Homo sapiens: one gene and its partner. The protein of the gene in region 1 purifies or fractionates together with the protein of each later gene. This does not show direct contact. Each region holds a gene or a part of one and is shown on either strand. Other genes may lie near its edges.

What was found.
Region 2: the proteins of GNB1L (region 1) and MND1 purify together in Homo sapiens (co-immunoprecipitation; one large-scale study listed by IntAct). This does not show direct contact.

Annotation. Positions count from the first base shown.
Region 1 is NC_000022.11:19,816,561-19,820,377, forward strand, and holds part of GNB1L (guanine nucleotide-binding protein subunit beta-like protein 1), read right to left. Parts: intron 1-3,817. UniProt on the Homo sapiens protein: Acts as a critical regulator of DNA damage response (DDR) signaling via specifically regulating phosphatidylinositol 3-kinase-related protein kinase (PIKK) family proteins.
Region 2 is NC_000004.12:153,354,452-153,358,268, reverse strand, and holds part of MND1 (meiotic nuclear division protein 1 homolog), read right to left. Parts: intron 2,616-3,817; coding exon 2,558-2,615; intron 1-2,557. UniProt on the Homo sapiens protein: Required for proper homologous chromosome pairing and efficient cross-over and intragenic recombination during meiosis.

The DNA of each region.
Region 1 (3,817 bases):
GCACACGGGCTAGGGAACACACACATGCCTCACATGCATGCACACAACACACAATCACACACACCACACACCTCATACACACCTCACATACATACACACCACACAGGCACCTCACACATACACAACTTACATACACAAACCTCACACACACAACACACAGGTTCTTTCTCACCTTCCCCCTTCTCGTGTCTGTAACTCTCCTCTCTGGGCAGGGACAACCCTGGCCTCTGTTATCCTGGAGATGTTCACTGACATGCCCAACAAGCGAGCCTGCCACCTGCCCTCACCAACCTCCTGGCCTCCCAGGCTGCCGCTGCCACACCACCCCCCCAACCCTGCTTCTTTGACTGCCTGGCACCCCCTTCCCACCCCATCCAAGGGGCACTGAGGTGGGGGAAGGCGGGACCGCTGGGTACCCACATGGAAACCCAGGGCCTTCACTGCACACCGTAGTGAATTCCAGCTGAACCATGGATCTACAAGGGACAACAGTAAAGTTCCTGGGAGACATGGAGAGAGGTCTCTCGGACCTCGGTGCAGGAACTCCCGGCAAGACACAAAGGCACTCTCCATAAGGGGAAAGCCTGGCAGACTTGAATCAACTCCATTAAAATGAGTAACTTTGTTCATTAAAGACACCATTAGGGGCCAGGCACAGTGGCTCATGCCTGTAATCCCAGCACTTTGGGACGCCAAGGTGGGCAGATTATGAAGTCAGGAGATCATCCTGGCCAACATGGTGAAACCCCATCTCTAGTAAAAATACAAAAATTGGCTGGACGTAACGGCACATGCCTCTTATCCCAGCTACTCGGGAGGCTGAGGCAGGAGAATCACTTGAACCAGGGAGTCGGAGGTTGCAGTGAGCCAAGATCATGCCACTGCACTCCAGCCTGGCAACAGAGCAAGACTTTGTCTCAAAAAAAGAAAAAAAAACGTAAGAAAAAGAAAACAGCGACAGCTGACTGCAGCTACATGCAACACACGGAGCTCACGGAGATAAAGTTGAGTGAGAGAAGTCACACACAGATGCTGCTCCTTATGTCTCCACGCTTCCAAAGAAAAAAGCAGACAAAATAGTCTATGCTTTTCAGAGACATACATTCATAAATATAGCAAAAATGAGGCGTGAGGGGCTACCTCCTGGGGCATGAGGGGCTATCTCCAGGGAGAGCAGGTGGCAGCAGCTCAGGGATTCAGAGGCTCGGGGGCCCTGCGCTCTACTTCTTGACTGGAAGGTGGTTGCTCAGGTGCTCACTCAGCCGTAATACAATGCTCTGAACACTTGTCTTGCACTCTTCTGTGAGTACATTATACTTCACAAGAAAAAAGATTAAAAAACACCCTGCCGAGGTGGCTGTCGAAGGCACAGGTGTGTCCTTGGCATGCGGGAGGCTGAGGGCGTCCTCCCACCTCCCATCAACATGAAAGCCATCACTTCCTTCAAGGGCCACTTGGAGAGACTTGGCTTCCAAACACAGCTGAGCACAGGCCGGGTGGCGGCCCACAGGCTCTAGTACAGTGCAGACGCACCTGGCACTCCACACCTGCAGTTTCTGTCCACAGACCCCCTGACCCGTGGCTGGCTCTGCCTGGGAAGCAGCCACTACAGCACCATCCCAGCAGGAAGGGGAGGTGCCCTCGAACGTCAGCTCCCAGACCGCCCACCAGGCCTGGCACAGCTCCTGTCTGCAGGACAGCCTGATACCACAAGGCACCTACGCAAGGGACCACCAAGGGCTACATTGTGGCTGAAAACTCAGGAGGACACTTACAAACAGCAGCTCCTGATGCACATGGCCTGGTGGGGTTCTAGAAATGAAGTCTACTCTGACAATCAAAGACCAAACCCACTCTGAGGCCCCCTGCACCAGTGGTGAGGGATCTGGGTCGGCTTGGCCAGGATGCAGGCATGACCACACGGGGCTCTGCAAGCACACAGGCTCAGGGCCTCTGCTCTTCAGGACAACCCTGGTGCCTTCGTCACCTGCAGCCATCTCCCAGGTGGTAGGCACCGCGTGAGTCTAGCACAGACATGTTTTGCAGACTGGTGGGGGCCAGACAGGCCTCATTCTCCAGGGACTATACTCCACAGTGCCATGAACCAGGCACCGAGTCCAGAGCAGGAGAACAGGCCTGTCCTTCTGGAGTTCTGGGCTGTGATGGTGATGGCACGGAGTTCCCTGAATATGACGCAAGGCAAATCCCAGGACAGCAGCAGGCCCGTGCTCAGGATTCCTGGGCTGGTGGCAGCGATCCCCACACAGGGGCAGATGTCACTCTGATCAAGGACAATAGCCTGCTCCAGCATCCAGGCAGCCCAAAGGAGGACTTGTTGTCAGCCCCCTGCAGGCCTTCCCTGTCCCACCATGCCCTGTCCCTCCCACTCCCCATGGGAAACAGAGAAGCCCCTCACGCACCTGCCCCTGTCTGCTGCTTCCTGGCCTACCTCCGGCCTGGTGTCTCAGCCCCATCACCTCCACAAGACCACGGGGGCGATGTCAGAACCCAGCCCTGGGCTAACCCTCGGGGGCTGCCCCTCCCTGCTCTGCTGCCAGCTGCCCAGCACCCAGCCCCACTGTCCTTCACCACACTCAGAGGCAGGCCCTCCAGGGCCGCAGCACGTGGGGTCTCCCCCACCAGGACTGCCAGGCCCTCTTATTCCTCCGCCACCTCCTGCTTACCCAGCAGCTGCACCAGCGTGTGAAGCAGGGCCCTGTGAGCTGGGTAACCTCAGGATGAGGCTCTGCCACCCATGCAGGAGGATGGTGCGACAGCCACAGGAGGCCAAGTTGTAGAGGGGCTGTGGTGACTGGGACCTGGGCCCATGGGATAGAGGCAGAAGCTCATCTGAGGAGGGGCCTGGGCTCAATGCGGACCCCTGGCCAGGGCGAGCTCTGCTGAAGGCACAGGCTGACACTGCAATGGGGACACAGCCATCGCCATACGTTCACTAGGCTCTTCCCAGCAGGCACCTGGCCAGACAGCACAGCAGTCACGGAGGGTAGGGTCACACTGTCTCGGGATGGGCTAAGGCCTCATGAACCATGGGGGCACCCAGAAACCTGCCCTTGTGCTAAGCACAGGCTAGAACAGTGGGGTCTGAATACCAATGGGGACAGGCCACCTCTGTGGACCCTTCCTGCTGGGGTACAGTCTGGACAAGTAATCCCCAAGTGATGCGTAGGGTACAGAACACACACGTGAGCTCGGGGCCCTGAGGGAGGAGACTGCAGGGGTAGAAACCACAGGAGACACTGCAGGGGGGACCAGGTGGGGAGATGGCCCTCACTACCACGCCCACTTCAGAAACGCAGAAGCACACTGCTGTGGGACAGCACTATACACCCAAGCCCTGCGCCCCGCCCCTGGCCACTCAGCCACCATCTTGCCAGCCACATAGCCGTATGTGGCACAACATCAGGGGCTGGGTCCTCTTGGGAAGAGTCAGGTGCATTGTCATAACCTAGTGAAGGGACACACACGGCCAGGGCTCAGCTGCCGGAACACCCAGCTCCTAGGGCCTCCACCGGCACCGTGTGTGACCTGCCATGCTCATGGCACACGGCCCAGGCAGGATGGGCAGTGGGCAGGGAGGCCCTCCTTGGGACCACTGCCTGCATCCCTGAGCCTGTACTTCATCCCATTCCCCTCCTCTCAGCAAATGCCCTCACCCCTGCCCAGTTTCCCAAGCCACGACCCAGTGCCCTTGTGAAGGCCCTCCCACCAACTTGCGCCTGGGCTCACCTCAGATGTCACCAGCCCTGGAGCTCTGGCCTCCTCACCTGGCACCTCCTGGCTCCAGCTTGGAGCATGA
Region 2 (3,817 bases), on another chromosome or scaffold:
ACTTATACAGGAGCCTAGGGGAAAACAAGTAATATACAGGATTAAGAACAGGACCTGAGTTCTAATCCTAACTCTTAGCAGTAACACTGGATGACTCTAGGGCAAATTGTTCTTTATGCCTAATTTAAAAAATCTATTAGATATGATCATTTCCATACTTACTTTGGTGCATAGCAGTAATGTCAATAAAATGTTACTTGTGAGAAGCCTTTGAAAAAGCAAAACAAAACTACAGAAATGCAAGTTTTTCTCTCCCAATAGATTATCTAGTAATAGAAGATGCTAGCATCAGTGCTTAGTAAATAATTTTAATGGTGTTAACACTCATAGTCTGTTGCTATATGGTATCTTTTCCTTTTCTAAATAATGTTTCTTTTTTAAAAAAGATGTTGGGTAATTTGGCCATCATCTTATACTGCAGAAAAAAATTGTCAATAACTGGGAGGGAAAATAGGTAAGAAGAAAAGGAATTTAGTTAATACAATAAATTTTTCCATCTTGTAGACTGGATTGAATTTTGTTTTTTGTTTTTGATCCTTCAAGATACAGTTGAGATTCCATTACCTACAATTTGTCTGGGGACATTAGGACACTGGTGTAATTAATATTGTATAGTTGACCCTTGAACAGTACAGGTTTGAACTGCATGGGTCCAGTTATATACATGGATTTTCTGCCACCTGAGACAGCAACACCACTTCCTCCTCCTCCTCAGCCTACTCAATGTAAGATGACAAGGATGAAGAACTTTATGATGATCCACTGCCACTTAATGAATAGTAAATACATGGTATGGCTTCCTGTCAACAGCAGGCTATCAGTAGTTAAGTTTTGGGGGAGTCAAAAATTACATGCAGATTTCCAATTGTGTGGGGGATTGGTATCCCAATCTTGAACAACATAGGTGTTGTTCCAGGGTCAACTGTGTATTTAAACTTAAGAAATTTGCATATCTTTAAGAAGTAGCAGAACCAATTGTTCACTGATGACTGTAAAGAGAATAATTGTGTGGTGTACATAAAAGTGTGAGGGACTCTCAGTGGTTGTCTGGTTTCACTTGTATGTATACTCATAATAAAAGAGGTTTTTTCATTTTGAAACAACACAACAAAAGACACACAAAAAATACATCAATGTGCATCTATAAAATATGCATGGTGGCTCATGCCTGTAATCCCAGCACTTTGGGAGGCCAAGGCAGGTAGATCACTTGAGGTCAGCGGTTTGACAACAGCCTGGCCAACATGGCAAATCCCCATCTCTACTAAAAATACAAAAATTAGGTGGGCATGGTGGCAGGAGCTTGTAATCCCAGCTACTCATGAGGCTGAGGCAGGAGAATCGCTTGAACCCGGGAGACAGAGGTTGCAGTGTGCCAGGACTGCACCACTGGGCTCCAGCCTGGACCACTGGGCTCCAGCCTGGGTGACAGAGTAGACTCTGTCTCAAATAAATAAATAAACAAATAAATAAATAAATAAAATAAAATATGCATGGCCAATATATGAGAAAAATGTTCAACCCCATTAATAACTGAAGAAATCGAAAATAAAGCAATTAGACATGACTTGACTACCAAATTAAAAACACTAAAAAATACAATAAAGAATTCAAGGATACTTGAATGGGTACTCTCAGTATGGGTGGAGAAACGTGGCAATCTGTATCTAAAACTTCAGATTTATACATATCTTTTTTTTTTTTTTTTTTTTTTTTGAGACTGAGTTTCACTCTGTCACCCAGGCTGGAGTGCAGTGGCGCGATCTCGGCTCACTGCAAGCTCTGCCTCCTGGGTTCACGCCATTCTCCTGCCTCAGCCTCCTGAGTAGCTGGGACTATAGACGCCTGCCACCACGCCCGGCTAAGATTTTTTTGTATTTTTAGTAGAGACGGGGTTTTAGTAGGCAGGATGGTCTTGATCTCCTGACCTCATGATCCAACTGCCTTGGCCTCCCAAAGTGCTGGGATTATAGGCGTGAGCCACCACGCCCAGCCCAATTTATACATATCTTTCCTGGGGAAATTCCACCTTATAAATACAGCCAAACAAAAAATAATAGATATGTAGAAGGATGCCTGTCAACACATTGTTTTCGACAGCAAAAGAATTGGAAACCAGTCTAATAACTGGATTTTTATTTTAAAGACAGGATTTTGCTATGTTGCCTAGCTGGGCTGAAGTGATCCTCCCGCTTCAGCCTCCAGAGTGGCTGGGACTACAAGTGTGTGTGCGCTACCAGCCAGCTTATCAACTAGATTTTTAAAAGTATTTTTTTATTGCAATGGGATACTATACAATCATTTATGTTATAAAAGGATATTTAATGACAGGGATATATATTCAAAATGTAATATACAGGATGTATTATACAGAAAAATAAAGGACAACATGACAGTGGTTATCTTTGGATGGTGATGATTTCTTTGTCTCTAGAAATTTAGGTTTTCCATAAAGTGAAAGACTGTTGCAGAAAAGATGACTTAATGAATATTAAGATATTTCCCAAAACATCCCAGTATATTTCCCAAAACATTCCAGTATAACTTTGGTACTTACTAATGCCTTTCTCTTTGGGAGCAATCTTCTCCAAGTCTTTTAATTGAAATACATCTTTCTGTTTAAAGGGTTTTAAAGAAAATGAAAAGCACGTGTTTATTTTCTACTATGTATATTTTCATTTTTAAAAATTTTTATTATGGGTACATAATAGTTGTATACATTTACAGGGTATGTGTGATATTTTGATATAGGTATACAATGTGTTATGATGAAATTGTGGTAATTAGGGTATCCATCTCTTCAAACACTTATCATTTCTTTGTGTTAGGAACATTCCAATTTCACTCTTAGTATTTTTAAATATACAATATATTATTAACTATAGTCACCCTATCGTGTTCTACTACATATTTATATATACATCATAATTTTATGTTCATGAAAAATTGTATTTAAAAAATTGGCCTGGAAATGAACAGTATAATAGAATCAAGCATTTTAGAGCTTATTAGAAACTCTTTGATTATCTCATTCCATACCTTCAATAGAACTTAAGAGATTTTTGCATACATTTACAATTTGCATATATATACAATTTTTTTTTTGAGACATGGTTTCACTCTATGGCCCAGATGGGAGTACAGTGGCACGATCATGGCTCACTGCAGCCTTGACCTCCAGGGCTCAAACAATCATCCCACTTCAGCCTCCTGAGTAGCTGGGACTACAGACATGCACCACCATGCCTGGCTAATTTTTAAAAATTTTTTTAGAGAGAGGGTCTCACCATTTTGCCCAGGCTGGTCTTGAACTTCTGGACTCAAGCAATCCTCCCGTCTCAGCCTCCCAAAGTGCTAGGATTACAGAGATGAGCCACCATGCTTGGCCAGCAGCATACAATTATTTAAAGTTCTTGGAGATCAGAACATAAAGAACAATCTTCCCACTTAAGTATAAAAACTAGTTATAGGCCAGTCATGGTGTCTCCTGTCTATAATCCCACCACTTTGGGAGGACTGCTTGAGCTCAAGAGCTGGAGACTGGCCTGGGTAACACAGTGAGACCACTCTTGCACCACATCTCCACAAAATCAAAAAAATTAGCTGGGTGTGGTAGTGCGTGCCTGTAGTCCTAGATACATGGGAGGCTGAGATGGGAGAATAGCTTGAGCCTGGGAGGTTGAGGCTGCAGTAAGCTATGACTGTGCCACTATACTCCAGCCTGGGCAAGAGTATAGAGTAAGACTGTGTCTCAAAAAACAAAACAAAACAAAACAAAAACAATAACAAAAAACCACCATCCTAGTTATGCTGGATC